Regions from separate parts of the Homo sapiens genome. Here all the other regions are linked to region 1. Evidence: fine-mapped expression QTL. A gene starts in region 1. Each other region holds a variant in brackets. All regions are shown on one strand. Distances are from middle to middle. Region 1 holds the start of ABCA7 (ATP binding cassette subfamily A member 7). Region 2 holds the start of RNF126 (ring finger protein 126). Region 3 overlaps ARID3A (AT-rich interaction domain 3A).

Region 1 (9,103 bases):
GGTCCCTGGCTGCCCTCTGCTGGTACTCCCGGCCCCTTTCCCTCACCCAGGCCAAGACTAAGGGGCTGCAGAGCGGGGTGGACATTGGCGTCAAGTACTCGGAGAAGCAGGAGCGGAATTTCGACGATGCCACCATGAAGGCTGGCCAGTGCGTCATCGGGCTGCAGGTGGGCGACAGCTCCCCCAGCCCCAGGGACCACGGCATTGGGGGACCACGGTGTTGGGGGACAGCAGCATTGGGGGACAGCGGCATGGAGCCCTGTGGTCCCTCAATTTCAGGGAGGGACCGGAAGCTTGTTGGGTGCAGTCTGACCTCTCCCACGAACCTCCCTGCAGATGGGCACCAACAAATGCGCCAGCCAGTCGGGCATGACTGCCTACGGCACGAGAAGGCATCTCTATGACCCCAAGAACCATATCCTGCCCCCCATGGACCACTCGACCATCAGCCTCCAGATGGGCACGAACAAGTGTGCCAGCCAGGTGGGGCTCGCCCGGGTGCCCCCGACTCCTCTCCCTGCCCCTCTACACCCTGTGGTCTCGGCCCCTCCCTGGGGCCACCTCCAGCTTCTCTCCCCACTCTCAGTCTCAGCCCCTTCCCTAGACCACCTCCGGCTTCCCTCCCCGCTCTCTGTCTCCGCCTTGGATTTCAGCCTCTGTCATTTCCACCTGGCTGTGGGTCTCTAGGGAAGTTACTACCTCACCCTGTGTCATTTTCCCTTAAGGACTGCCCAAAGGTCCACCCAATTCTTTTTTTTTAATCTTTATTTATTTTATTTATGTATTTATTTTGAGATAGGATCTCACTCTGTTGTCCAGGCTGGAGTGCAGTGGCACGATCTCGGCTCACTGCAACCTCTGCCTCCCGGGTTCAAGAGATTCTCCTTCCTGCCTCAGCCTCCCGAGTAGCTGGGACTACAGGTGCATGCTGCCACACCCGGCCAATTTTTGTATTTTTAGTAGACATGGGGTTTCACCATGTTGCCCAGGCTGGTCTCGAACTCCTGAGCTCAGGCAATCCACCCGCCTTGACCTCCCAAACTGCTAGGGTTACAGGTGTGAGCCACCGCACCCGGCCACACCCAGCTAATTTTTGTATTTTTAGTAGAGACGGGGTTTCACTGTGTTGGTCAGGCTAGTCTTGAACTCCTGACCTCAGGTGATCCTCCCACCTCAGCCTCCCGAGTAGCTGAGACTACAGGCGCCCGCCACCACGCCCGGCTAATTTTTGTATTTTTAGTAGATATGGGGTTTCACCGTGTTGGCCAGGCTGGTCTTGAACTTCTGACCTCAGGTGATCCTCCCACCTCAGCCTCCCGAGTAGCTGGGATTACAGGCATGTGCCACCACGCCCAGCTAATTTTGTATTTTTGGGAGAGACAGGGTTTCACCGTGTTGGCCAGGCTGGACTGGAACTCCTGACCTCAGGTGATCCTCCCACCTTGGCCTCCCAAAGTGCTGGGATTACAGGCGTGAGCCAGTGCACCCAGTGAAGGTCCCCTCTTCTCTCCACCATGACCTGCTCCACCCCTCCTTCCTCTCCAGGTGGGCATGACGGCTCCCGGGACCCGGCGGCACATCTATGATACCAAGCTGGGAACCGACAAGTGTGACAACTCCTCCATGTCCCTGCAGATGGGCTACACGCAGGGCGCCAACCAGAGCGGCCAGGTCTTCGGCCTGGGCCGGCAGATATATGACCCCAAGTACTGCCCGCAAGGCACAGTGGCCGATGGGGCTCCCTCGGGCACCGGCGACTGCCCGGACCCGGGGGAGGTCCCTGAATATCCCCCTTACTACCAGGAGGAGGCCGGCTACTGAGGCTCCCAGCACGCTCTCTCCCCACATCGTCTGCCCATCTGGGTTTTTGGGTTTTTCTGTGTTTTCATCTTTTTTTTTTTTTTCTTAACCCGTTCAGTGCTGCCAGTCAACCAAGGGTCTGTGAGTGTCAGCGTGGGATCAGGCAGCAGAGCTTTTTTCCCCTTTGCCTTGATCCTTCGCAAGGCTGAGCCACTGGGCTGTGGGGGAAGGGGTCAAGGCCATATCCCAATACGTGTAGGGCGAGGGTCCCTGCTGGCACATTCAGGCTGTGCTGGGAAGAAGAGACCTGGGCTTGGAAGGAACCGGTCCCCGACGGTTTCTGCTTGCCTCGCCTCTTCCCCCTTTTGTCAGCTGAGCAGTTTGTGGTTTCTATGCCCGCAAGTTTCAGGAAGTATTCACAAAAGAAAAATACATTTTTTCCCCCAGGGGTGGGGCAAGGACAGTGGAGAGAGTGCTAGGAAATGAGTCCCCTGGGAAAGGGGACCGGGCCGTGATGTTAAATATCTCCGGCTCCCAAGTGACTGGATTTGCCTAGGACCTTCAGACCAACAGACTTCAGACCCTCAGACCTGCCCCGGGGCCAGGTGGAGAAAGTGAGGGCCGTACAAGGAAGTGAAATTCTGAGTTGTTGGGGCTAAGCCTGACCCCCTCTCCATGCTCCCCGCCCCAACCCACTCTGGCCTCAGTAGATTTTTTTTTCAGTTGTGGTTGTTGCCCAGGCTGGAGTGCAGTGGCGCCATCTTGGCTCACTGCACCTCCACCTTCCGGGCTCAAGCGATTCTCCAGCCTCAGCCTCCTGAGTAGCTAGGACTGCAGGTGCTCCACCACGCCCGGCTAATTTTTGTATTTTTAGTAGAGATGGGGTTTCCCCATGTTGGCCAGGCTGGTCTCGAACTCCTGGCCTCAGGTGTGATCCGCCCGCCTCCGCCTCCCCAAGCGCTGAGATTACAGGTGTGAGCCACCGTGCCCAGCCCCTCAGTAGGTTTTAAGGAGCCCCCAGCCCTCCTCCCTTCTGGGCCCGACCAGCTTATACTGCTCCATCTTCCCCGGCCACATGCCCCGCCAAGTACTGCACAGGGACCCCCCACCCAGGGGACCTGCTCCGTGAGATAATGTGAAATACGACTGTGGACCAAACGCAATAAAACCTCTGTTTGTACGAAGAGAAGGTGGCCAAGAGAGTTGGCGTCGATGAGGGCGTGCTTTGCTTTGATGCTTTTGTGGGGAGAGAGGAGGTCTTGGGGGATGGGGGGATCAAGGGGAAAATGTCCACCTCACCATTGGGAGGAGGAGCAAAAGCTGAAGCCACAGGTGAGTCTGGGTGGAATGAATGATTTGAAGGGCCGGGACTTGGGGTAGAGGGAGAGGCTGGGCTTCCTGGCCATTTGGAGAAGAGGCAGTTCCCTCAAATGCCCCCCATGCGCTTTGGCTGCACTCTACCTTACAGCGCAAGTCTCGTGGCCTCAGCCTGGATGTCTCCCCGTTGGCGAACTCCTATTTATCCTCAAAGCCCCAACGGCAATGCCACCTCCTGCCGCGGGAGCCGTCCCCACGCCTCTCACTCTCCCCAGCGCCTTCAAAGCTGTGGACCCACACGCTCCCATTTCAGCTTCACCTCCAGCCTGAAGAGTTTATTTCAACTCTTCTTCCAGAGTGGGAAACGGGTTTTCCTCAAAATCAGGGTAGCCACTATAATCGGAGACTCTAGAATGTTGGCCCCCTCCCCCTCCTGCCATCCTCTGCAGAAGCCGAGGAGCGTTCGTGGAATGAATGAATGAACGAATGATCTAGTGGAACCCCTACTTTACAGACGGACGAGTGTAGTCCCAGAGTCTGGACTAAACTAGAGGGAGCCTGGCCAGCCCCGGGGACAGCGGGGACAGAGGGAACTCCTGCAATTCGGAGCTGCGGTATTGCAGCCGGTTATACAACGTGGGGAGGCAGCCTGGCTCCCCAAAGACAGCGCAGCCTCGTTCCCGGAGGGCGGCCTGCCTGGGACCTGCCGGGCACTCCGCCACCCTACGGTGATGCAGCAAGAGCCGCGCGGTCCCTTTAAGAAACCCGGCTAGGCGAGGCCCTTCTGTGATCCCGTCTCCTCCCTTGGCCCGCGCAGCTCCGACGGAGCAGGCCAGTGAGTGACGGGCAGGTCGCCCAATAGCAGCGTGCAGAGGCAGGGGCGTGCCCCGGCGCTGCTACCTGCGCGGGCAAGCTCAGCGCACTTGGCTTAAGGGGCGGCGCGCTCCCTGCCTGCTGCTGGGCGGAGGGAAGGCGGCAAGAGCTGCGGAGCCCCTGGAAGGTGAGAAGGACTCGGAGAGGGAAGAAGGCCCGAGACTCGAGAATGCGGGGTTGGGGCCGGGAGGGATGCAAGTTCCCTGGGAATTAGGGGGTCCAGCCTCTGACCTCCTTCCGGTGAATGTTGACGACGGCTGAATTGATCACTGATTCTCAAGGGGGGCATCGGACATCTGGGACCCTTAAGAGGGCCTTTGCCGATCACACACCTGCAGCCCCCTGCCCGTTAGAACTCCTGCACTCCCCCTTGCCCCGTCTTACAAATGGAGAAACTGAGCCCACTCCCCCAGATCCTAAGTCCCGCTTGATGTAAAGGAAAGAACCCTGGCGTAAGGGTCTGGGTCTGAGGTCCCAGTTCCGGCCTGGTCACCTTTAGCAACTTCCTGCCCCTCTGTCAGCGTCAGATTCTCCATCTGTGTCAGAGGTGGACCGGCCCAAGGAAAATAGATCAGGAATCGCTGACTCCAGGAGTCTCTATCCCAGCCCCTTCGCCTGACTCTTTCTCTGGCTCCCGCGGTCCCTCTGAGCGATTAATGCTACATAAGGTGTGGGCAGAGCTGGGGTCGTGCCTCCAGCTGGGCAACTGCCTGTCTCTCTGGGTGCCTGGGTTTGCTTTCTTGGGCCTCGGTTTCCACTTCTGTAGAGTGGGGTGATAGTCCAGCACTTCCCCTGGGCGTGTGAAATGTCCAGCACTGCCAATATTCGTTGCTGTTATCTTCGGAGAACAGTGAGGGGAAAGGAATCCTTGCCTGGGCTGGGCCAGGCAGGAGGCTGGGGGTCAGGACCTGGAAGAGGCTTCCAGGTGAGGCTTGGGGTGGAGCCTGGTGACGAAAGCGTTAAGCCCAAACTCGGTCCCTGGAGGATTAGAGGATGATCTTTAAGTCCCCAGCTGTCAGCCCTGCTCAGAGCGACAGTCCTGGCAGCCAATCAGATGCGAGGACGGCTGCGGGTTGCGCTCCCATTGGTTTACTCCACCCCTGGGGTAGCGGAGCCTCTTTATCGAGTGACTACTGTTTGCCTCGCTCTAATCAGAGCTTCCAGGAACCCTGCGCTGTGGGATAAAGGAATGAGGTTCAGAAAGGGGCAGGGAGTTGCCCGCAGCCGCACCGCACGTCTTCAGCCCGACCGTTGTCCTGACCTCTCTGTCCCGTCCCCTGCCCAGTCTCACCATGGCCTTCTGGACACAGCTGATGCTGCTGCTCTGGAAGAATTTCATGTATCGCCGGAGACAGCCGGTAACGCCCCAGTGTGAGACCAGGGCCGGGTGGGCAGGCAGCCCCCACTGTCCCCCACCGTCTCCCACCTATTCTCCCCCAGGTCCAGCTCCTGGTCGAATTGCTGTGGCCTCTCTTCCTCTTCTTCATCCTGGTGGCTGTTCGCCACTCCCACCCGCCCCTGGAGCACCATGAATGTGAGCCCCCCCAGGGACCAGGCACTTTGTGTGTGTAGGGGAAGGCAGATGGCTCACCCGTGCACAGGAATCCCCCGTGCATGTCAGGGAGCCTTCACCAGGCCGCCAATACATGGCATGGGAGTGAGCTCTCCATCGCTGGAGGCATGCAAGCGGTGCCGGGCGACCCGATGGGGGTGGAGTCAGGCAGAGTCCACAGGGCCTCAGCACCAGGCGTCTCCCCGCAGGCCACTTCCCAAACAAGCCACTGCCATCGGCGGGCACCGTGCCCTGGCTCCAGGGTCTCATCTGTAATGTGAACAACACCTGCTTTCCGCAGCTGACACCGGGCGAGGAGCCCGGGCGCCTGAGCAACTTCAACGACTCCCTGTGAGCCAGAGGCAGTGGGTGCGGCCGGCCTGCAAACTCGGGGCTGCAGTGCCGGCCGGAACCCCGCCTCCTGCCCTCTCTCTGTCCCCAGGGTCTCCCGGCTGCTAGCCGATGCCCGCACTGTGCTGGGAGGGGCCAGTGCCCACAGGACGCTGGCTGGCCTAGGGAAGCTGATCGCCACGCTGAGGGCTGCACGCAGCACGGGTGAGGAGGCCGGGGGGCCTCTGGCAGGGCTGAGCTCTGAGCCTCAACTTGCCGGGCCGTGAAATGGGCACAGGGTGGGGGTGGGTGCCTCAGACCAACGTCCCCCCAGCCCCATGCTCCCGTGCGCTCCTCCCCCAGCCCAGCCTCAACCAACCAAGCAGTCTCCACTGGAACCACCCATGCTGGATGTCGCGGAGCTGCTGACGTCACTGCTGCGCACGGTAGGGTGTCGGGGCGGGACCGCGCTGACTTCCTGGGACACTGCACTGGGGATGTCCTGGCACTGCCCCACCCCGGGCCAAGGACCTCCCGTTCCAGGCATCCAGGCTGTCCCTGGTCTCTGCGGTGATGCTGCTTGTCCGTCTGGGCCCCCAGACAGAGTGTGTCTGACCCAGTGAGGAAGACTCGTCTGTGAGATCTCCAATGAGTCCCTTTGCCTCTCAGAGCCTCAGTTTCCCTATTTGTAAAGTGGGGGCTATGATAGTATGGTCTGCCTGGGAACTGGCCAGAGCGCTGGACCCCTAGTGAGTGTTCAAAATCATTGTCCCCCTTGTGGTCTTTCTCCCCAGGAATCCCTGGGGTTGGCACTGGGCCAAGCCCAGGAGCCCTTGCACAGCTTGTTGGAGGCCGCTGAGGACCTGGCCCAGGAGGTACGAGGCCCCACTCATCCTCAACCCCCATGGAGGCAACGTTGGCAGGCAGCCTGCGCCGGGAGGGTCTGGGGCAGCCCGGGCACTTCCCTTGGGTGGGTTTTCAGGAGGATTAGACAGCGAGAGGGAGAGGCTGCCCCTGGCCCAGTGCCCTGCCCTGGTTAGGGCTTGGAGGTGGGATCATTGCCAGCTCCGTCTGGTAACCTCTCTCTAGCTCCTGGCGCTGCGCAGCCTGGTGGAGCTTCGGGCACTGCTGCAGAGACCCCGAGGGACCAGCGGCCCCCTGGAGTTGCTGTCAGAGGCCCTCTGCAGTGTCAGGGGACCTAGCAGCACAGTGGGCCCCTCCCTCAACTGGTACGAGGCTAGTGACCTGATGGAGCTGGTGGGGCAGGAGCCAGAATCCGCCCTGCCAGACAGCAGCCTGAGTGAGTGACTGACCTCGGTTTCCCCTCTTGGGAAGTGGAACTCTGGGCAGGGGGGCAGGGCCTCATGGCACCCCCATCCCAGGCCCCGCCTGCTCGGAGCTGATTGGAGCCCTGGACAGCCACCCGCTGTCCCGCCTGCTCTGGAGACGCCTGAAGCCTCTGATCCTCGGGAAGCTACTCTTTGCACCAGATACACCTTTTACCCGGAAGCTCATGGCCCAGGTGGGGGCAGCCTGGATGCTGGGGTGGGAGGGTGGTGGCCAGAGCCCATCCAGTACCCTCAGTCCAGGTGGGCCAGGGCCAGGCCGGAGGGTCACGGAAACTATTTGAAGAAGTAGGAGTTAGCCGATGGAGGGGGATCAGCTTGTGCGGAGGATCAGAGGCACACGCAGGAGCAAGGCAGAGGGGGCAGGGGGTGGGCAGGGGTCCTCAGAGGAGGAGAGGGTCATCAGTGGAGGGGGTGCTGTCCACAGGTGAACCGGACCTTCGAGGAGCTCACCCTGCTGAGGGATGTCCGGGAGGTGTGGGAGATGCTGGGACCCCGGATCTTCACCTTCATGAACGACAGTTCCAATGTGGCCATGCTGCAGGTGTGCGGGGGTGCTGGGGAGGTGGGATGTGGCTCCCCGGTGAGGAGGGTAGACAGGCCCGGTGGATGGGAAGGTGGGCTCCGTGCAGACCCCCACTTTTTTTTTTTTTTTTTTGAGATGGAGTCTCGCTCTGTCGCCCAAGCTGGAATGCAGTGGCGTGATCTCGACTCACTGCAACCTCCACCTCCCGGGTTCAAGCGATTCTCCTGTCTCACCCTCTGAGTAGCTGGGACTACAGGCGCCCACCACCACGCCCGGATGATTTTTTTTTTTTATTTTTAGTAGAGACGGGGTTTAACCATGTTAGCCAGGATGGTCTCGATCTCCTGACCTCGTGATCCACCCGCCTCGGCCTCCCAAAGTGCTGGGATTACAGGCGTGAACTACCACGTCCTGCTTTTTTTTTTTTTTTTTTTTTTTTTAAGAGATGGAGTCTCACTCTGTTGCCCAGGCTGGACTGCAGTGGCGAGATCTTGGCTCACTGCAACCTCCGCCTCCTGGATTCAAGCAATTCTCCTGCTTCAGCCTCACAAGTAACTGGGATTACAGGCATGCGCCACCACTCCCGGCTACTTTTTGTATTTTTAGTAGAGATGGGCTTTCACCATGTTGGCCAGGCTGGTCTCGAACTCCTGACCTCAGGTGATCCACCCGCCTCGCCTCCCAAAGTGCTGGGATTACAGGCATGAGCCACTGTGCCCGACCCAGACTCTCACTTTCACCTGCGCCCCCCAGCGGCTCCTGCAGATGCAGGATGAAGGAAGAAGGCAGCCCAGACCTGGAGGCCGGGACCACATGGAGGCCCTGCGATCCTTTCTGGACCCTGGGAGCGGTGGCTACAGCTGGCAGGACGCACACGCTGATGTGGGGCACCTGGTGGGCACGCTGGGCCGAGTGACGGAGGTGAGGGCCTGTCCACCTGCGGGGTCTGTTTCAGTGGGGAGGGCAGGTCCCATCCTAGTGTTCCCACCCTGGTGTTCCCAGGGGGAGGCGGGCCCGGCCCTAGTAAGAGCCTGGGATTTGTAGAGATCTCAGGAGGGAGCCGGCCGTGGGCCTACGAGGGGAAAACATGGCCCAGCCCCGAGGTCCAGGGGGAGGAGCGGAGTGGTCTAGGAGGCAGGCGGACCCCAGCGCCTAGGACTCACCCCCGCATCCCACAGTGCCTGTCCTTGGACAAGCTGGAGGCGGCACCCTCAGAGGCAGCCCTGGTGTCGCGGGCCCTGCAACTGCTCGCGGAACATCGATTCTGGGCCGGCGTCGTCTTCTTGGGACCTGAGGACTCTTCAGACCCCACAGAGCACCCAACCCCAGACCTGGGCCCCGGCCACGTGCGCATCAAAA
Region 2 (10,205 bases), 380 kb before region 1:
CAGAGACGCCCCGTTTCGAGGGCACTGGTTGTGGCTGGGGACTTTCCCCATTGCCAGATACGGAGCAGCCGTCCCTCCCCAGAACAAACGCCAGGTGTGCCCATTTCCCAGCATAAAAAATTCGTTTTTGAGACAGCGTCTTGCTTGTCACCCAGGCTGGAGTGCACTGGCACCATCACGGCTCACCGCAGCCTCCACCTCCCAGGCTCAAGCGCTCCTCCCACCACCTCAGCCCCCGCCAGTAGCTGGGACTCCAGGAGTGCAACAACACACCCCACTAATTGTTTTAGTCTTCTGTAGAGACAGGGTCCTGCCACGTACGGAGAAGTTCTGACACTGCCATGCTGTCTACGGGCGCCTTGTTGCGTCCTGCTCCAAAGGCACAAGCAGATGCCCTTGGGATCACCCGCGGGGTGGACACGGGCAGGCCCCCGCAGCCCTCTCTGCAGTTATTTGCTCTTAAGGAATCTACCAACGTCCATGATTAAATATTTGTCAATCACTGTTCCATGCTGGCTCCCTGGCCAGCCTGTAAATTCTGTGAGGGCAAAGACCACAGCGGCCTGTCACCACAGAGTTCCTTTCACTACAGGAAGGCCCTCCCCAGGCCCAGTGACAGTCGGAGGAGGTCAAGGTCCTCCGTGTCCAAGGCCACGGGGCGAGGAAGTGGCTCCACCACACCAGGATCCAGTCCTGTGCGGGCTCTAGGAGCAGCTAAATGTGCAGCCGAGTCAAGGCAGTGTCGGCCCCCCACAGCCACCACTCCAGGCTTCCCAGGGGCTTCCCAGGCCTGTCCCAGGGCTCAAGGGGCTGCAAGGGGCTGCCCTGCAACTCACCCAGGCTGGCGGGCTGTCAGGCAACCAGCCTCTCCTGCCACGGCCAGTGGGGACAGAAAGCTGGAAGAGGCAAGAGCGAGACCCCTGGGAGACAGAGGAGTAAGGCAAGGCTCAGTCTCAGCTCCCCAACCTTCGCCCCACACCCGAGATTTCACTTTATTTGTTCCTCCTGCTGGGGAGGGGAAGCCCTGTGGCTTCAGTAGAGAGGAAACCACACCTCTCTCTTTCCACTCCTGGGCCTGGCCCCGCTCTCCCGCCATGCCCCAACTCTAGCACTCGCTCCTCCTCTGTGACCCAGAGACAGGCGGCTTCTCCTGACTCCCTCCAGCCCCTTCCTGGGTCTCTACTCCCGGGGAACTGCACTGCTTCTGGGGGGCTTGGACTTCTCTTACGGGTCAAAGCGTAGCAACAGCCGGGCGGCTACGTACACAGCACAGTAAATCCTCAATGCCTGCAGCCTCTTCCCCTGGGCACAGGGTGGGGAGTCCAGACCCCTCCACCTCCTGCGGCTGCTCCCCTCAAGCTGGCCAAGCGGCTCCCGACTGAGCCGGCTCTGCCACTTTCCCGCTGAGCCACCACGCGCCTCAGTTTCCCCATCTATAAAGCACGGGTGGCTCGACTAAATCACCACTTTGCACGTCAGCCTGGCGAAGGGCAACACGGGTTAAAAATGCAGACCACCGCCGGGCACGGTGGCTCACACCTGTAATCCCAGCGTTTTGGGAGGCTGAGCCAGAAGAATCGCTTGAGCCCAGGAGTTCAAGACCAGCCTGGGCAACACAGGGAGACCCCATTCCTAAAAATAATATTAGAAATGCAGACTGCTGAGCGCATTCCACACCTACTGACTCCGAAACCCTGGAAAAGGGGCCTGGAAATAGCACCTTCAACGAGCGCTGCTCCCACCTCCCCCAAGGTGACATCAGGTCCGCGTGGGAAACACTGCCCTAAACGAGCAGGAAGTAGCACTCGGCACGCCCAGGCCCAGGGTCCTCTTCGGTGAGGGGCGGCTGTAAACACCTGGAGGAAGGGTGGGCTGCGCAGCCAAGCCCCGGGAGGGGAGGAACGCAGGCTCTGCTCACAAAGCCCCGCCGGCGGGCCGCGGTCGGACCCCGGGACAGTGCCTGGGGCGTTCCGGGCCTGGGCCTGCCTCCAAGGCGGCGGCCAGGGCTCCACGAGGCGAGCCTGCAGCGAGGCGCCGGCGCCCCCAACCACGCGCTCGGCGGGGGTCCCCTGGCGTTATTCTCGGGGTCCGAGCCCCGCCAGGCCCAGCCCCTGCCCCGCGCCGCGCCACCGGGCAATACCCTCTCTCTGCTCGCCGGGCCTCAGTTTCTCCGTTTGCAAAACCAGGCTCACCGGGCTTAGGGATCCCACCTGGGATCCTCGCGGCCTCTCGGGTCGGGAACGCCGCGGATGTGGGGTCACCCGGCCGCGATCCCGCTGCGCCGCTCCGGCCAGGCCCTGCCTCCCGCCCGGGCCTCAGTCTCCCGCATGTACAGGACGGGGTTCGCGCGCGCACCGCCCGGGCTCCCCGCGGATTCAGCCTGGGCCGGCGCTGCCCCGAGCCTCAGTTTTCCCGTCGTGGTCAGCTCGCGCAAGAGGCGGGCGCAAGCGACCCCCACCCCGGCCCCGGCCTTGCCTCAGGCCTGCGGCGCAGACCCTGCCGCCCGCCGCCCCGGCCCGGGCCTCACCGGCAGGCGCGGGACGATCTCCACGGAGCAGCAGTGGCAGAAGTACCGTCCGGGATGCGGCGACGCCTCGGCCATGGCCGCCGCCACCTACTCCGCGCCGCCCGCCCCCCGCGCGGCACCCGCCGCCGGCCGTTTGCTGCTCCCTCGCCGGCCGACGCGCCCGCGCACGCTCACGCACGGCACGCACGGCACGCGGGGCGGAGCGGGGGCGCGGGAGCGGCGAAAGCTGCGTACTCGGCGGGCAGCGGCCCGGGCGACGGTGGCCGCTGAGAGACAAACTAGGCCCGGCCGTTGGGCGGGGCTCCAAGCGGGGGCGGGGCTTCCGGCGGGGGCGGGGCCAAAGCAGGCGGCGGAAGAGACGAGAAGCGGGGCGTGCGCGGGGCGGGGCCGAGGCCCTCCTCCCCTCCCGAAGCTGCCCAGGCCTTCGTGTCCCTCAGTGCTTCCCTACCTCATCGCCGTCTCCCCTCACGGTACTTCAGCCCACTGTCCCCACCGTTCCTGGGGCTCGCCAGGCGCCCTCTCCCCCGCCCGCTGCCCGGTGCAGCGCTCTCCCGACGCCCGCGTGGCTTTCTTCCAGGTCTTTGCTCAAATGTCAGCTTACAAGGTCTTCTCTGCTGCCCTCCTGCTCCGTGGCACTGATTCCCTCCCGATGCACTGTCAGGTCAGCTGCGCAGCAAAGGGATTTTTGGACCCGCAGCAGCGCCTGACACACAGCAGGCATTCCCTCAGCGCTGCGGAATACAGGCAGACCCGGGGCTCAGGGCGCTGTCTGGGCCTCACTGGGACCCGTGGGGTCAGACAGAGGCTGAGGTCTGTGGGTTGTGGCCTTGTTTCCAAGATGCTCCACGGGCTGACGGCCCAGGCGCCTCTCGGGTGCGGAGAAGGCAGGAAACCTAACCCCTGCTTCCAAATTTAATCAGTAGAAACGGTATCATCACCCAGCACAGGCCAGGATCATTTCTGAGGTTAGTTCTGGCCCAATCATGCATGCATTTCTTTTTTCTTTTTTTTTTTGAGACGGAGTCTCACTCTGTCACCCAGGCTGGGGTGCAATGGCCCGATCTCGGCTCACTGCAACCTCCGCCTGCCGAGGGTTCAAGCGATTCTCCCGCCTCAGCCTCTCGAGTAGCTAGGACTAGAGGCACCCGCCACCACACCGGCTAATTTTTGTATTTTTAGTAGAAACGGGGTTTCACTATATTTGGCCAGGCTGGTCTTGAACTCCTGACCTCGTGATCCGCCCGCCTCGGCCTCCCAAAGTGCTGGGATTACAGGCATGAGCCACCGCGCCCGGCCTCATGCGTGTATTTCTTTCTTCACTCAACACTCATTGAGCAACTACTGCACACCAGACCCTATGCTGAATGCACGCAGATACCCCCAGTCCCATGAGATTGGACAGGAGCGTGGAACTCAAGGGTGACTCTGGCTCTGCCTGGGGAAAGAGAGAGAGGGCTTCCGAGGGGTAAGGACATTGGAACCAGGGCTGAGGGATGAATAGGATTTGGTTGGAGTTGGACTTCCTGCAAAATGAGGCATTGGAGCGAGACTGTTGAGGAATTAAGAGTTGGAGCCTGTGCATTTAGATTTTTTGTTTGTTTGTTTGTTTTTTAGAGATGGAGTCTGGCTCTGTTGCCCAGGCTGCAGTGCAATGGCGCAATCTCGGTTCACTGTAACCTCCGCCTCCCGGGTTCAAGTGATTCTCCTGCCTCAGGCTCCCGAGTTGCTGGGATTACAGGCTGGGCACCACCACGCCCGCCTAATTTTTGTATTTTTAGTAGACGGGGTTTCACTATGTTGGCCAGGCTGGTCTCAAACTCCTGACCTCAGGTGATCCGCCCGCCTCGGCCTGCCATAGTGCTGGGATTACAGGCGTAAGCCACCGCGCCCGGCCTGCATTTAGGGTTTTGAATGTCCAGAGGTTGGGGACAGGGGCTTCAGCCTCCTTCCAGTCGTCTTTGCAGCAGCGCGAATCCAGTCATTCCTGCTCTGACCACCAGAGAGCGCACGGGCCCCGTCCCTGGGAATCCAGGAAAACCCCAGGCTGGGGAGGGGCGAGGCTTGCCAGACGCAGCCCCTGCACCAGCCTTCACGCTCCGCAAGTGCAGGAGGAGCAGCAGGCCTGGTTCAAACGACGCCAAACCACGAACTGGCTGTGTGTCCCTAGGCAAGTGGCCTAACCTCTGAGAAGGCGGCAGAACCTGACGGTTTTCCGTTGGCTCGGAGCAGACATGAGGACCGCTGGCACCTCCTCAGCCCTCTCTGTGCTCTGCTGCCT[G/A]CCCCGAGTCACCTGCCCCTCGCTGACCCCTCCCCAGCCTCACTGGCCCCCTTGGGTGGGCTAAGCAGGTTCCCACCTCTGGGCCTTGCAAGGCTGTGCCCTTCCCCAAGTCCCCTCTCCTTCCCCTGCTTTTTTTTTTTTTTTTTTTTTTTTTTGAGATGGAGTCTCACTCTGTTGCCCAGGCTGGAGTGCAATGGTGCGATCTCAGCTCACTGCAACCTCCGCCTCCAGGGGTCAAGCGATTCTCCTGCCTCAGCCTCCCGAGTAGCTGGGATCACAGGCATGCGCCACCACGCCCGGCTAATTTTTGTATTTTTAGTAGAGCTGGGGTTTCGCCATGTTGGCCAGGCTGGTCTCGAACTCCTGACCTCAGGTGATCCGCCCACCTCGGCGTCCCAAAGTGCTGGGATGACAGGCGTGAGCCACCGCGCCCGGCCCTTTCCCCTGGTTTTTAGGAGGCTGCCCCATCCACCACTGCACCCCACTTCTCAGAGCCCCCTTTCCATCCCCCACAGCCATCCTCACATCTGTGGGTTATTAATGGCGTCTCCCCATATGTGAGGCCAATACCCAGCGCACCAGTAGGTGTTCAGTAGATTCCCAAATGCACCAACAGTTGCCGAGTGTCTACTGTGTGCTGGGCTCAAGCAGGTGCTGGAAACACAGTGGGAATGAGAAGGAACGTAGGGATTTTGTATCAAACTAAGCAGGGCGAGGTGGCTCACGCCTGAGACCAGGAGTTCAAAACCATCCTGAGCAACATAGTGAGACCCTGTCTCTACAAAAATAGAATTAGGCCGGGGACAGTGGCTCATGCCTGTAATCCCAGCACCTTGAGAGGCTGAGGCAGGAGGATCACTTGAGTCCAGGAGTTGAAGACCAGCCTGGGCTACATGGTGAAACCGTGTCTCTACTAAAAATACAAAAATTAGCCAGGTGTGGTGGCGGGCACCTGTGATCCCACCTACTCAGGAGGCTGAGACAGAAGGATCACTTGAGCAGGAGGCAGAGGTTGCAGTGAGCTGAGATCGGACCACTGCACTCCAGCCTGGGCCACAGATGGAGACCCCATCTTTTTTGTTTTGTTTTGTTTTGTTTTGTTTTGTTTGAGATGGGTCTCCCTCTGCCGCCCAGGCTGGAGTGCAGTGGCATGATCTGGGCTCACTGCAAATTCTGCCTCCTAGGATCAAGCGATTATCCTGGCTCAGCCTCCCAAGTAGCTGGGATTACAGGCATGTGCCACCACGCCCGGCTAATTTTTGTCCTTCTAGTAGAGACGGAGTTTCTCCATGTTAAGTAGGCTGGTCTCCAACTCCTGACCTCAGGTGATCCGCCCACCTCAGCCTCCCAAAGTGCTGGGATCACAGGCGTGAGGCTAATCGTTTTAAATTTTTATTTTGTAGAGATAGGATCTGGCTATGTTGCCCAGAGTGATCTCCAACTCCTGGGCTCACGGGATCCTCCCACCTTGGCCTCCCAAAGTGTGGGGATCACAGGTGTGAGCCAGAGTGCCCGGCCACCCCTTTATCCCAAACACACCAAAAAGCAGGCTGCTCTTCCCTGAAGGCAGTAGCACATTGATCAAATCGGCCAGTGGGCACTGACACTGCTGCACACAAATGCACACACTTGCACCCTGCCCCAGGCCCCACCGGCCACCCTGGTTCCACAGACGGCACCGTTTCTCCCATTTCCTCTCACCAGGGACCTCGACAGGTGTGGGCTTGGTTCCGTGAGCTCTCTTAGCCCCTTTTTCAATTCAGGATCCCGTCCCCGTGAACCCTGGGGGCCTCGGCAAACATGAGACGAGAGGACTCCTAAAGGAATGACACGCGCCACTCCCTCCGGGGCAGAGAGGTGTGTTGACAGCTCATTCTCACGTCCCAGGCAGACCAAGCCCAGGTGGACCACGTCCCAGGCAGACCAAGCCCAGGTGGACCACGTCCCAGGCAGACCAAGCCCAGGCGGACCACGTCCCAGGCGGACCACGTCCCAGGCGGACCACGTCCCAGGCGGACCAAGCCCAGGCGGACCACGTCCCAGGCGGACCACGTCCCAGGCGGACCAAGCCCAGGTGGACCACGTCCCAGGCGGACCACGTCCCAGGCGGACCAAGCCCAGGTGGACCACGTCCCAGGCGGACCATGTCCCAGGCAGACCACGTCCCAGGCAGACCAAGCCCAGGCGGACCACGTCCCAGGCAGACCACGTCCCAGGCGGACCAAGCCCAGGTGGACCACGTCCCAGGCAGACCAAGCCCAGGCAGACCACGTCCCAGGTAGACCTAGTGGTTGTGTATTCACTTCTCCCAACCCCCCTGGGAAGAAATAACTGCAGCTGGCCCCATTGCACCAATGAGGAAACTGAGGCCCAGGGAGGAAGCCGATTGCCTGAGGCGGCAGCTTTGGGACTGGACTGTGGCTGCCTCCTGAGGAAGGAAACAGTTCCTCCCTCCACCCTCATCCTGGCAGGGGTTGGGCCACCGTTGCTTCATCAAGTGTCGTGGAGCCTCCGCTCTGTGCCAGGAGCGGGGCCTGTGCCACAAACGTCTGCTGAAACCAGCCATCCACCCAACAGTATCGAGCACCATGATCGGAAGAGTAAAGGCCCCAAACTGGGCCAGGGGCGGTGGCTCATTCCCGTAATCCCAGCACTTTGGAAGGCTGAGGCGGGTGGATCATTTGAGGTCAGGAGTTCGAGGCTAGTCTGGCCAAAATGGTGAAACCCATCTCTACTAACAAAAAAAAAAAAAAAAAAAAAAAAATGGCCGGGTGCAGTGGCTCATGCCTGTAATCCCAGCACTTTGGAAGGCCGAGGTGGGTGGATCATCTGAAGTTGGGACTTCGAGACCAGCCTGACCAACATGGAGAAACCCTGTCTCTACTAAAAATACAAAGTTAACCAGGCATGGTAGCAGGCATCTGTAATCCCAGCTACTCGGGAGGCTGAGGCAGGGGAATCGCTTGAATCTGGGAGGCAGAAGTTGCAGTGAGCCAAGATCTTGCCATTTCACTCCTGCCTAGGCAACAAGAGCAAAACTCCATCTTGTTAAAAAAAAAAAACTAGCCGGGCATGGTGGTGCCTGCCTGTAATCCCAGGTACTCGGGAGGCTGAGGCATGAAAATCACTTGAACCCGGGAGCAGAGGTTGCAGTAAGCTGAGATTGCACCACTCCACTCCAGCCTGAGAGACAGAGTGAGTGAGAGACTTCACCTCAAAATAAATAAATAAAGTCCCCAAACACACTTGATTTTAGCCCAGCAAGACTCATGTCTGTTGCGGGAAGTCAGGGACCCCGAACGGAGGGACCGCCTGGAGCTGTGGCAGAGGAACATAAATTGTGAAGATTTCATTTTAATATGGACATTTATCAGTTCCCAAATTAATACTTTTATAATTTCTTACGCCTGTCTTACTCTCATCTCTTAATCCTGTTATCTTCGTAAGCTGAGGATGTATGTCACCTCAGGACCACCGTGATAATTGTGTTAACTGTACAAATTGATTGTAAAACGTGTGTTTGAACAATATGAAATCAGTGCACCTTGAGAAAAAACAGAATAACAGCGATTTTAGGGAACAAGGGAAGACAACCATAAGGTCTGACTGCCTGCAGGGTCAGGCAAAAAAAGCCATATTTTTCTTCTTGCAGAGAGCCTATAAAAGGACATGCAAGTAGGGAGGATATCGCTAAATTCTTTTCCTAGCAAGCAATATTAATATTAATACCCTGGGAAAGGAATGCATTCCTGGGGAGAGGTCTATAAACAGCTGCTCTGGGAATGTCTGTCTTACGTGGTTGAGATAAGGACTGAGATACGCCCTGATCTCCTGCAGTACCCTCAGGCTTACTACGGTGGGGAAAAACTCCACCCTGGTGAATTTGTGGTCAGACGTTTCCCTATTTTTTGTTCAAGATGTTTATCAAGATAATACGTGCACCGCTGAACATGGACCCTTATCAGTAGTTCTGTGTTGCCTTTTCTCCTGTTCCCTCAGAAGCAAGTGATCTTTGTTCTGTTTTTTGCCCTTTGAAGCATGAGCTCTACTCCATGTTCTCACACCCCCTCCCCTCTTGAAACCCTTAATAAAAAACTTGCTGGTTTAAGGCTCAGGGGGCAGCACGATCCTACCGACATGCGACGTCACCCCCCGGCGGCCCAGCTGTAAAATTCCTCTCTTTGTACTCTTCCTCTTTATTTCTCAGCCAGCCGACACTTATGGAAAATAGAAAGAATTTATATTGAAATATGGGGGGAATGGGTCCCCCCGATACATGTCAGATTTCTTTTATTTATTTATTTATTTATTTATTTATTTATTTATTGAGATGGAGTCTCACTCTGTCGCCCAGGCTGGAGTGCAGTGGTGCCATCTCGGCTCACTGCAAGCTCCGCCTCCCGGGTTCACGCCATTCTCCTGCCTCAGCCTCCCGAGTAGCTGGGACTACAGGCGCCCGCCACCATGCCCGGCTAATTTTTTGCATTTTTAGTAGAGACGGGGTTTCACCGTGTTAGCCAGGATGGTCACGATCTCCTGACCTCGTGATCCACCCGCCTCCACCTCCCGAAGTGCTGGGATTACAGGCGTGAGCCACCTCACCTGGCCTTATTTATTTATTTTTTTTGAGACGGGGGTCTCGCTCTGTTGTCCAGGCTGGAGTGCAGTGGTGCGAACTCGGCTCACCAAAACCTCTGCCCTCCAGGTTCGAGCAATTCTCCTGCCTGAGCCTCCTGAGTGGCTGGGACTACAGGCACCCGGCACCACACCCAGCTAATTTTTGTATTTTTAATAGAGATGGGGTTTCACCATGTTGGCCAGACTGGTCTCAAACTCCTGACCTTAAGTGATCTGCCTACCTCAGCCTCCCAAAGTGCAGGAATTACAGGCGTGAGCCACTGCGCCCAGCTGTTTTGTTTTTTGAGATGAAGTCTCACTGTCACCCAGGCTGGAGTGCAGTGGCGCGATCTTGGCTCACTGCAGCCTCCGCTTCCTGGGTTCAAGTGATTCTCCTGCTTCAGCTTCCCGAGTAGCTGGGATTACAGGAGTGTGCCACCTCGCCCGGCTAATTTTTTTTGTATTTTTAGTAGAGACGGGGTTTCACCATGTTGGCCAGGCTGGTCTCAAACTCCTGACCTCAAATGATCTGCCCGCCGCAGCCTCCCAAAGTGCTGGGATTACAGATGTGAGCCGTGGCACTTGGCCAGTGGGGTTGCTTTAGGGCCCAGCTCACACCGCACCCGGCTGATGGGGTTGTTTTAGGGCCCAGCTCACTTCCCAGTGTTCCCACACCGCCCACCAGGCCAGGCCTTCAGGCCTGAGCCATGTTATCAGCATCACAGGCTCCGGAGTCCAGCAAGTCTTTGCCTCCTGGAGCCCAGGGGTTGGCAAGTTCTAGCT
Region 3 (10,205 bases), 68 kb before region 1:
ACATGGTGAAACTCCATCTCTACTAAAAATACAACAAATTAGCCGGGCGTGGCAGCGCACCCCTGTAGTCCCAGCTACTTGGGAGGCTGAGGCAGGAGAATCACATGAACTGGGAGATGGAGGTTGCAGTGACCCGAGATAACGCCACTGCACTCCAGCCTGGGCAACAATAGCAAAACTCCATCTCAAAAAATAAAAAATAATAAAGTAAACTGGCTGGGCACCGTGGCTCATGCCTATAATCCCAGCACTTTGGGAGGCTGAAATGGGAGGATTGCTTGAGCCCAGGAATTTGAGATCAGCCTGAGCAACACAGTGAGATGCCATCTCTACAAAAGTTAGCTGGGCGTGGTGACACGCTCCTGTAGCCCCAGCTACTCGGGAGGCTGAGATGGGAGGATCACTTGAGCCCAGGAAGTCGAGGCTGCAGTGAGCCATGATTGCACCACTGCATTCCAGCCTGGGTGACAGAGCAAGACCTGGTCTCAAAAACAAGGTAAAAAAAAACAAAGTGGAGTATGGACAAATACACTTATTCAACAAATAAATATTGAGCACCTACTGTGTGCACTGGTGACAGCATGAATGTGACAGACACCGTCTACACCTTGTAAAGCTAAAATCTAGTTGGCGAGACAGACAGAAAACAGAACATGTCACAGGTGTCTTTATGATCAGAAATGGCAGTTTTGGTCGGGCGCGGTGGCCCACGCCTGTAATCCCAGCACTTTGGGAGGCCGAGGCGGGCAGATCACCTGAGGCCAGGACTTCAAGACCAGCCTGGCCAACATGGTGAAACCCCGTCTCTACTAAAAATACAAAAATTAGCCGGGTGTGCTGGTGTGTACCCATAGTCCCAGCTACTCAGGAGGCTGAGGCAGGAGAATTGCTTGAACCCTGGAGGTGGAGGTTGCAGTGAGCCGAGATCGCACCACTGCACTCCAGCCTGGGTGACAGAGTGAGACTCCGTCTCAAAAAAAAAAAAAAAGAAAGAAACTCATTTGTTCGGCTGGGCACAGTGGCTCATGCCTATAATCCCAGCACTTTGGGAGGCCGAGGCGGGTGGATCACGAGGTCAAGAGATCGAGACCATCCTGGCCAACATGGTGAAACCCCATCTCTACTAAAAATACAAAAAATTAGCCAGGCGTGGTGGCGGGCGCCTGTAGTCCCAGCTACTGGGAGGCTGAGGCAGGAGAATGGCGTGAACCCAGGAGGCAGAGCTTGCAGTGAGCTGAGATCGCGCCACTGCACTCCAGCCTGGGCAACAGAGCAAGACTCTGTCTCAAAAAAAAAAAGAAAAAAAGAAACTAATTTGTTCTTCTTCCCACAGCCTCCGAAAGCCGCCAGGACTCTGCTGTGAACCTGACGGGCACCAACGGCAGCAACAGCATCAGCATGTCGGTGGAGATCAACGGCATCATGTACACAGGTAGGACCCCTGAGGCCACGCCCTGCCTGGACCTCGCCTCTCCCGCCGCCGTGAACTCAGGACCCTGAGTTGCGCCTGGTCCCACCTGCTTGAACCTAGGTGTGCGGGCGAGCAGGGCACGGCCAGGGGCTTTGCAGGACAAACAGTCAAGACTGATGGAGAGGATACCATCGTTCACCCGGTACCACGCTCAGCCCAGAGGGGGTCGTCCACAGATACATATTCAGTGTGACGTTGGATGGTTCACATTCCTAGTTTTTTGTTTTAATGAGACGGAGTCTTGCACAGACATGCACCAGCACACCTGGTTAATTTTTAAATTTTTTGTTGCTCTTTAAATTTTAAATTGCTTTGTTGCTCAGACCGGTCTTGAACTCTGGGCTCACGCAATCTTCCTGCCTCGGCGTCCCAAAGTGCTGGGATTACAGGCGTGAGCCACCGCACCCAGCCAATCCCAGCATTTTCGGAGGCTGAGGAGCAAAGAATGTATAAGCCCAGGGGTTAGAGACTTTCAGGCTGCAGCAAGCTGTGATGACGCCACTGCACTCCAGCCTGGGCCACAGACCGAGACCCTGTCTCTTGAAAAAAAATTTAATGAATGTATTTTTTATTTTTTTTAATTTGTAATTTGTAATTTTTGTGGGTACATAGTAGGTATATATATTTATGGGTTTTATGAGATGTTTTATACTGGCATCCAATGCCTAATAATCACATCAGGGTAAATGAGGTATCCAAAAAATTGAATCTAGGCTGGGTGCAGTGGCTCATGGCTATAGTTCCAGCACTTCGGGAGGTTAACACGGGAGGATCACTTGAGCCCAGGAGTTCAAGACCAGTCTGGGCAACATAGTGAGACCCCATCTCTCCTAAAAATATAAAAATCAGCAGGGCGTGGTGGCAGGCGCCCATAGTCCCAGCTACTCGGGAGGCTGAGTAGGGAGGATCACTTGAGCCCAGGAGGTGGAGGTTGCAGTGAGTCAAGATCACACCATTGCACTCCAGCCTGGGTGAAAGAGTGAGATCCCGTCCTTCTCTCTCTCTATATATCTATATATAGATATATCGATAGATATAGCTGTAGCTATACATAGATATATATAGATTAGATATAGATTTATATGTATCTATAAATACATATATACTTTTATATCTATATCTACATAGATATATATATATATAGTTGTTTTTTTTTTCTTTTGAGAGGGAGTCTTCCCTCTGTCACCCAGGCTGGAGTGCAGTGGCACGATCTTGACTCACTGCAACCTGTGCCTCCTGGGTTCGAGCGATTCTCCTGCCTCAGCCTCCCCAAGTAGCTGGGACTACAGGCGTGTGTCACCACACCCAGCTAATTTTTTTTTGTATTTTTAGTAGAGATGAGGTTTCACCATGTTGGCCAGGCTGGTCTTGGACTCTTGACCTCAGGTGATCCGCCTGCCTCGGCCTCCCAAAGTGCTGGGATTACAGGCATGAACCACCGCGCCCACCCTATATATACATATTTTTTTAAATAAAATGAATTAAAAAGTTGCCGGGCACAGTAGGTCACACCTGTAATCCCAGCAGTTTGGGAGGCTGATGTGGGTGGGTCACAAGGTCAGGAGTTCAAGACCAGCCTGATCAACATGGTGAAACCCCATCTTCCCTAAAAATACAAGAATTAGCGAGGTGTGCTGGTGTGTGCCTATAATCCCAGCTGCTTAGGAGGCTGAGGCAGGAGAATTGCTTGAACCCGGGAGGCGAAGGTTGCAGTGAGCCGAGATCGCGCCACCGCACTCCAGCCTGTGCAATGGAGCAAGACTTCGTCTCAGAGGAAGAAAAAAAAAAGAATTAAAAAATTTAATTAAAAAAGTGGAGTCAGTGCCAGGGGCAGTGGCCCACGCCTGTAATCCCAACACTTTGGGAGGCTAAGGAGAGAGGTTTGCTTGAGGCCAGCCTGGGCAACACAGAAGACCCCATCTCTACAAAAGAACATAAGTAAATGAATAGTTTTTCTTTTTTTTTTTTTTTTTTTTTTTTTTTGAGACAGAGTCTCACTCTGTTGCCCAGGCTGGAGTGCAATGGCATGATCTCAGCTCCTGCAACCTCCGCCTCCTGAGTAGCTGGGATTACAGGTGCATGCCACCAGGCCCGGCTAATTTTTGTATTTTTAGATGATACGGGGTTTCACCATGTTGGTCAGGCTGGTCTCGAACTCCTGACTTCGTGATCTGCTGGTCTTGGCCTCCCAAAGTGCTGGGATTACAGGCATTAGCCACCACACCCGGCGGTAAATGAATAGTTTTTCTTAAAGTGGAGTCAGGCCGATGGTTCATAGTGGCCACCAGGTGGCGCTGTCGACACAGAGCAGCCTTGTTGCAGGCCCCCGCCCGGCTGTGGTCAGAGGCTGAGCTGAAGGTCAGTGGTGTCCTCACAGGTCCACAAATGGATTTTTGAGGGGTCCGTGCCCTCCGGAAATCAGATGTAAAACGTGTACATTCATATTGAATCTTACAGGGGAGAAGGCCAACTGTGTGCTAGGGGTCTCGCAACCCCACATCAACGAACCATGGGCATCAGGGTTCTCCCTGCAAGAGCTGTGTGCACGCTGATGTGCATGTGTGGATTAAACACACGTGTGTGCTCACGTGCATCCATATATATGCACATGTGTGTGATGAAGGAGTGAGCAGACACAGTGGGGAAGTTTAAGCTGGGCTCACGTCTGTAATCCCAGCACTTTGGGAGTCAGAGGCAGGAGGATTGTTTTAGGCCAGGAACTTGAGACCAGCCTGGGCAACATATTGAGAGCCCATCTCTACAAAAAATAAAAAATTGCTAAAATATTGCCAGCCACAGTGGCTCATGCCTGTCATCCCAGCACTCTGGGAGGCCAAGGTGGGTGGATCACCTGAGGTCAGGAGTTGGAGACCAGCCTGGCCAACATGGTGAAACTCCGTCTGTACTAAAAATAAAAAATTGGCTGGTGTAGTGGCAGGCGCCTGTAGTTAGTCCCAGCTACTCAGGAGGGTGAGACAGGAAAACTGCTTGAACCCAGGAGGTGGAGGTTGCAGTGAGCCAATATCGCACCACTGCACTCCAGCCTGCGCGACAGAGCGAGACACCATCTCAAAAAAAAACAAAAAAATAAAAAATTAGCCAGACATGGTGGCACGCCCCTGTGGTCTCAGCTACTCGGGAGGCTGAGCTGGGAGGATCACTTGAGCCCATGAGGTTGAGGCTGCAGTGAGCTCTGATGCCACCACTGCACTCTAGCCTGGGGGACAGAGTGAGAGAGAAGTTTATTCCCCGGAGCACCCCATTGGGTCTCCCTTGTGGCCCGCCTCGCATCTTCTTAAACTCTGCATGGCATATGTCTTCTGTTCTTGCCTTAGGAGTTCTGTTTGCTCAGCCGCCGGCCCCCACGCCAACCTCTGCTCCCAACAAAGGAGGCGGCGGCGGCGGCGGCAGCAGCAGCAACGCAGGCGGCCGGGGAGGAAACACCGGAACCAGCGGCGGCCAGGCTGGGCCAGCGGGGCTGTCCACACCCTCCACATCTACCTCAAATAACTCGTTGCCTTAACCGCATCACTCCCCACCCGCCACCCACCCTGGAGCCCGCCGGCCTGGGCAGGGGGTCCAGGTGGGCCACACAGGGGCCAGGATGGCGGAAGATACGGGTGGGGAGGGAAGATATCCAGAAAGGAGCCACAGCTGACGCCAAAAAGAAAAGAAAAAAGATATATATATATATATATATATATACACGTATATATATAAAGA[G/A]AATTTAATAAAACAGGGGAAAACCAAGGAACACTTGAATTTCTCAGGTTTTGGACATTCAGAGAGATGAATTGTGAGAACAGCAAAGAAATCCATCAGAAAAACAGAAAGAGGCAGACGTTTCCCAGGGCGTTCAGGCAGCCCTGATGGACCGAAGGCTCTGGTGTCTGGTTTGGCCCCACAGCAGTGTGGGCCGATCCTGTTTACCTCATACATCCCTGCACTGTGTGTTTTCATTTTTGTCTGCTTTAGTTCTCTTTTATTTTCTATTCACCACACACTCACCACTCCCAGCTTCTCGTGTCCAGTGAAACCCCTGAACCAAGATCACTGAATTTTTGTTTTTTTCTTGTTGCTTTGGGAAATTTTTTTTTCTCTGTAGGGTTTTTAAGAGGTTTCGGGGGTTTTGTTGTGTAAATATTCTATTTTATTCTTGGGGGGATCAAACCTTAGGAAAAGGATATCTATATATCTATATAGCTATATATTTGTGTTCCTTCAGGGAAACTGGTCTTGAAAAAGCAAGAAAAAAAAGCAAAAAAAAAAAAAAAAAAAAAAAAAAAAAACTCACCTTTTTATTTTTCCCATGACCAATTTGGGTCCCTTTGTCCATTTCTGGGGGTGCGTTGGGCAGCTGTGAGCCCAGCACATCGGATCCCTGGGGCTAGAGCCGCGGAGCCAATGAACTCAGGTGCTATGGGCCGGGCTGGGGCAGAGGGTGCATGCTGGGGTCCCACCGGCCAGGGGCCCCTGACAGTGAATTGCTGACTGTGATATTCCACGATGCTTTTGCTTGTGCCGTGCTTGTCTGCTGGGCTCTCGAGTCAGGGGCCTGGAAATTTTTTTTTTTTTTTTTTTTTGAGACGGAGTTTTGCTCTTGTCGCCCAGGCTGGAGTGAGTGCAATGGTGCGATCTTGGCTCACTGCAACCTGCACCTCCCAGGTGCAAGCGATTCTCCTGCCTCAGCCTCCGGAGTAGCTGGGATTACAGGCGCCCGCCACCACGCCCAGTTAATTTTTGTATTTTTAGTAGAGATGGGGGTTTTGCCATGTTGGTCAGGCTGATCTCGAACTCCTGACCTCAGGTGATCTGCCCGCCTTGGCCTCCCAAAGTGCTGGGATTACAGGCATGAGCCGCCACGCTGGCCCGGTCTGGAAATCTTATCTAAAAAGTAGCAAGTGCTGGAAAAAGGGCCTGGGGGGCGGGGGTGGTTCTTGTCGAAGCCCCCAGGCTCCTGTCTCAGGGATGAATGTGGCGTCTCATTGGGATTCTTCTCTTGCCCGAAAGGGCTGCTTTTGAGGACTATCAATACTGGGGAGTGGGGGTGAAGCCGGACCTCACTCAGGGTGAGGATTTCAGGGCCCCGGCATCCTGAACACCCCCCACACCCCAACATTCTCCTCGCTCTGTCCCTTCCTCTTCTCCCAACCCCTTTTGTGCTGGGGCTGCGAGCTCCCCGAGTTCTGCGGTGACTAAATCGAGGCCGAGAAGGGAGGCTGCCCCCCACCACCCTGTGGGTCAGTACCCCTCCCCCTGGCTTGGAGAAAGTGGGGTCACCGCAGCTGAGCTGGGGGGTTATTTTGGCTGGAGCTGCTGGAGCAGAAAGGCTGGGTCTGAAATGCCCAGCAGGGTCTGGGGACTTCGTTGGACCCGCGTGGTGTTGGGCGGGGCTGTCGTGTCCTACACGGGAGCTCTGGGCTTTCATTTCTCTTGGGGTGCAGTGGGGATTAACTCAGCTATTCCCAGGGTAAGCCTGGGTCTCTAATTGGGCCCTGGGAGCCCTGTTAGGCCACCGGCATGGGGGCTTGGTGAGGAAGGGGACTCCCCAGCTCCCCCCACTCCCAACCACCTCCCCATTGCCTTGGAGACCCCTGGGGAGGGGGCTGGGGGGCTTCTGAGCCCCTGAGTCTAGGTTCACTTTCCCGTCGGGCTGTGGGAGGGGACTGTCACTTTCCTGTGTCTTTGGGGAGGGGACCCCCACTTCCTTCTCGGATCTCAGGGCCGTGGACACACACCCCCTTTCCAGGAGGGGGTGGTGGGCGTCTAGGTTTTCCTTGTCCCTTCCTGGGGCCAGCACCGTAGCAGCACAATCACCCCGGGAAGGGGGTGTCTGTTTGCCTCCAGACACAATCGGGCCCCACTCGCAGAACCACCTGGACTCTGTCCGTGTCTGTCCCCCGGCCTCCAGGGCTCCTCTCCCGGGACCCCCGTCCCACGCCTGGGCCCCGCGCCGGGGGAAGCGCCTGCTGCCTATCTCTGTCTACCTCAGGTCTGACTTTTGATGCCAAAATCTGAGCCCCTGGGGTGCCTCTCCCCCGCCTCCCGTGCACCAGGGTCTGCAGCAGCCACTGGGGCCTGGCTGCCTGCTGCATCTGGCGGCCCTGGACCCCTGGGGCCCCCGTGCACCTGCCCACCTCGGAGCCTGGGGAGGGGCCGTGCAGGGTCGAGGGCTGGGTCGTCTCCCTCGGGCTGCGTGTGTGTGTCGGGAATCCTGCGTGTCGTGTCTGTGGGCGATCCGGCCTCCCGGCGGTGGGTGGACCTGGATTCTAACTCAGAGGACTTGAGCCTGCTGTTAACTCCGATGATTGTAGGGACAGGCGGGGTGGGTGGGGGGTGGGCGCGAGGCTGGGTCCCGGCCCAGGAGAAGGAAGTCGCTGAAGGCAGTGGCCATGCTGGCCGTGGAAATGGGAGGCGGTTGCAGAGGGTCTATGGGGCCCGGTCCTGGATACTCGGCAGGAAGCCGTGTCTGCAGAGGCTCCTCCCTGCCTCAGGTGGCCCCGTTCAACCCCAGCCGTGCCCATCTCCTGCCACCGCCTGTCGGTGGGGGTTTAAATTCGGTGTGGCTTTCTGGGGTGCAGCTCAGCACCCCCCCTTATGCAGACTGGGAGGGGGTCGGGCAGTCCCCTCAGCCACGAGGACCCTGGATGGGTTCTAGTTCACTTGGGACCGTGGGGCCTGGCTGCGTACTGAGTGGGTGCCCCACAGTCAAGGCCAACGGGGGCTCCCCCTGCTCTGAGATGTTGGGAGAAAGGCGGCTTCTGGAACCTTCCGTGGGACCCGTAAGTGGCTGTCCAGAAAGGCGGGAGGGTGGGCACGGGGCACGGGGGGCAGCTGGGGTCGTTGTTAAGGGTCACGCATCTGTACAGTTGAATTTCCTTTCTCTTATCATGTTTTACCCACCTTGTCCCTTTTTTCCCCAATTGTGCTTTTGCATTTTTTTCCTTGGCAAATGTAAACTCAGCCTTTCATTCATGACGTGTGAAATTTCAGTTTCTCTGGAGTTTGTCAGACGGCGTGGGAACCACGCCTGAAACTCAGGTAATAGGAGGAAAAAAAAAAAAACTTAAAAAAATTTTTAAAAAACATAAAACTACTCTCTACCTCTGGCTGGGCCCAGCCTGTCTCGCCCTGGCCGCGGCAGGGTGGCCTGTAACAATTTCAGTTTTCGCAGAACATTCAGGTATTAAAAGGAAAAAAAAAAAAAAAGACAAAAAGACCAAAAAAAAAAAAAAGTGTGATTTTGAAATTTAAAAGAACACTGAAAGTTTACATTTTATAGTAACATTATTATGCAGATTGTATTTAAACTTCAGAAATATTTAAGACGATTGTAACCCTGTAAAGCTGATGAGATATTAAAACGAGACAAAACACTTCTGACTTTTAACAGAAAAGTGTCCTGTGGTGTTTTTTTTCTTTTGGCGTCTCCCCAACCTCCAGCTCCACCCTACACCCCTGCCCAGCACAGCCAGGGGTGAGTGGAAGGGGGTGCTCTATCCCCCTCTGCCCTGCATCGCTCTAGGTCTGGTTCCGGGCGGCAGAGACAGCTACAAAAGCGGGGGTCTGGCCAGGTGCGGTGGCTCACGCCTGTTATCCCAGCACTTTGGGAGGTCTAGGAGGGCGGAATCACCTGAGTTCGGGAGTTTGAGACCAGCCTGACCAACATGGTGAAACCCCATCTCTACTAAAAATACAAAATTATCCGGGCGTGGTGGCGCGTGCCTGTAATCCCAGCTACTCCGGAGGCTGAGGCAGGAGAATTACTTGAACCCAGGAGGCGGAGGTTGCAGTGAGCCGAGATTGCGCCACTGCACTCCAGCCTCGGCGACAAGAGGGAAACTCCATCAAAAAAAAAAAAAAAAAAAAAAGCAGGGGTCCTCAGCCAGGGTCTGTGCCCCCAGGGGGACCCTGGTCCATGTCTGGGGGCATTTGTGGTTGTCACGCCTGGGGGGGCGCTCCTGGTGTGGAGTGGGTGGAGTCCTGGGATGCTGCTCGGCACCCTGAGTGCCCAGGACGGCCCCACCGCAGAGAACAATCTGGCGCCCAGCATCCACACTGCAGGAGTTGGGAAATTCTGCCTTCATTATTTAAGGTGGGGTAAAAACAGTTCTCCCTGCCCACAGCAGACACCAGGATAAGCTCCTGACAGGGCAGACGGTGTAAACCCGGGGGAACCCAGCTCCTGGGACTCGCCTCCTCTCTCCCTCCCTACTCAGGGCATGGATTTCAGTGTGTGCAGCCTCCTGGGACCCCAGCAGGGCCGAGGATCATGGGATGCAGAGTCTGTAGGGGGTCCATGGAATCCCCTAACCCAGAGGGCCTTAACCAGGGTGATTCCGCCCCCAGGGGACCCTGGTCCATGTCTGGGGACATCTGTGGTTGTCCCATCTGGGGGGAGCTCCTGACATGGAGTGGGTGAAGTCCAGGGACGCTGCTCGGCACCCTGAGTGCCCAGGACGTCCCCACCCCAGAGAAGGATCCAACCGCAAGGTCCACAGGGCCGAGGGGAGCTCCTGGAGGCCGCTCTGGGCACCTCTGTGCCTCGCTGAGAGCCCGACACCAATCCCGTTTTAGGGATTTGGGATGACAGGTGTGGCAGGGCCAGTGTGCGCACCCCCAGCCACCTGCCCACGAGCCTGACCCCTCGCCTCCTGCCTCAACAGGGCTCTGCATGCGGGCGCCCCTGGCGTTATCCGACCGGAGCTCCCAGGGCAAGTGGCCCGGTCCGGCC

The links.
Region 2: its variant is fine-mapped to the expression of ABCA7 in prostate (GTEx, PIP 0.93).
Region 3: its variant is fine-mapped to the expression of ABCA7 in whole blood (INTERVAL, PIP 0.93).

The regions. Positions count from the first base shown.
Region 1 is chr19:1,036,080-1,045,182 of GRCh38, forward strand. It overlaps ABCA7 (ATP binding cassette subfamily A member 7), which reads left to right and starts at 4,028. Exons shown (of 47, transcript NM_019112.4): 1 at 4,028-4,117; 2 at 5,146-5,348; 3 at 5,431-5,524; 4 at 5,752-5,893; 5 at 5,985-6,097; 6 at 6,236-6,318; 7 at 6,667-6,747; 8 at 6,962-7,172; 9 at 7,255-7,394; 10 at 7,646-7,762; 11 at 8,498-8,665; 12 at 8,923-9,103. The coding sequence starts at 5,283. CNN2 (calponin 2) reads left to right here. Exons shown (of 7, transcript NM_004368.4): 5 at 51-167; 6 at 337-483; 7 at 1,546-2,986. The coding sequence ends at 1,821. RefSeq lists enhancers at 2,034-2,593, 2,181-2,682, 2,683-3,182, 5,075-5,872 and a silencer at 5,024-5,163.
Region 2 is chr19:660,520-670,724 of GRCh38, forward strand. RNF126 (ring finger protein 126) reads right to left here and starts at 2,695. Exons shown (of 9, transcript NM_194460.3): 1 at 2,528-2,695. The coding sequence starts at 2,602. RefSeq lists enhancers at 1,082-1,171, 1,312-1,371, 1,662-1,711 and silencers at 1,762-2,051, 2,542-3,021. The variant G/A (reference allele first, on the strand shown) is at 4,806.
Region 3 is chr19:967,072-977,276 of GRCh38, forward strand. It overlaps ARID3A (AT-rich interaction domain 3A), which reads left to right. Exons shown (of 9, transcript NM_005224.3): 8 at 1,334-1,432; 9 at 4,807-8,868. The coding sequence ends at 4,994. Among named protein-coding and RNA genes, the nearest start is that of WDR18, 12 kb to the right of the region's middle. The variant G/A (reference allele first, on the strand shown) is at 5,195.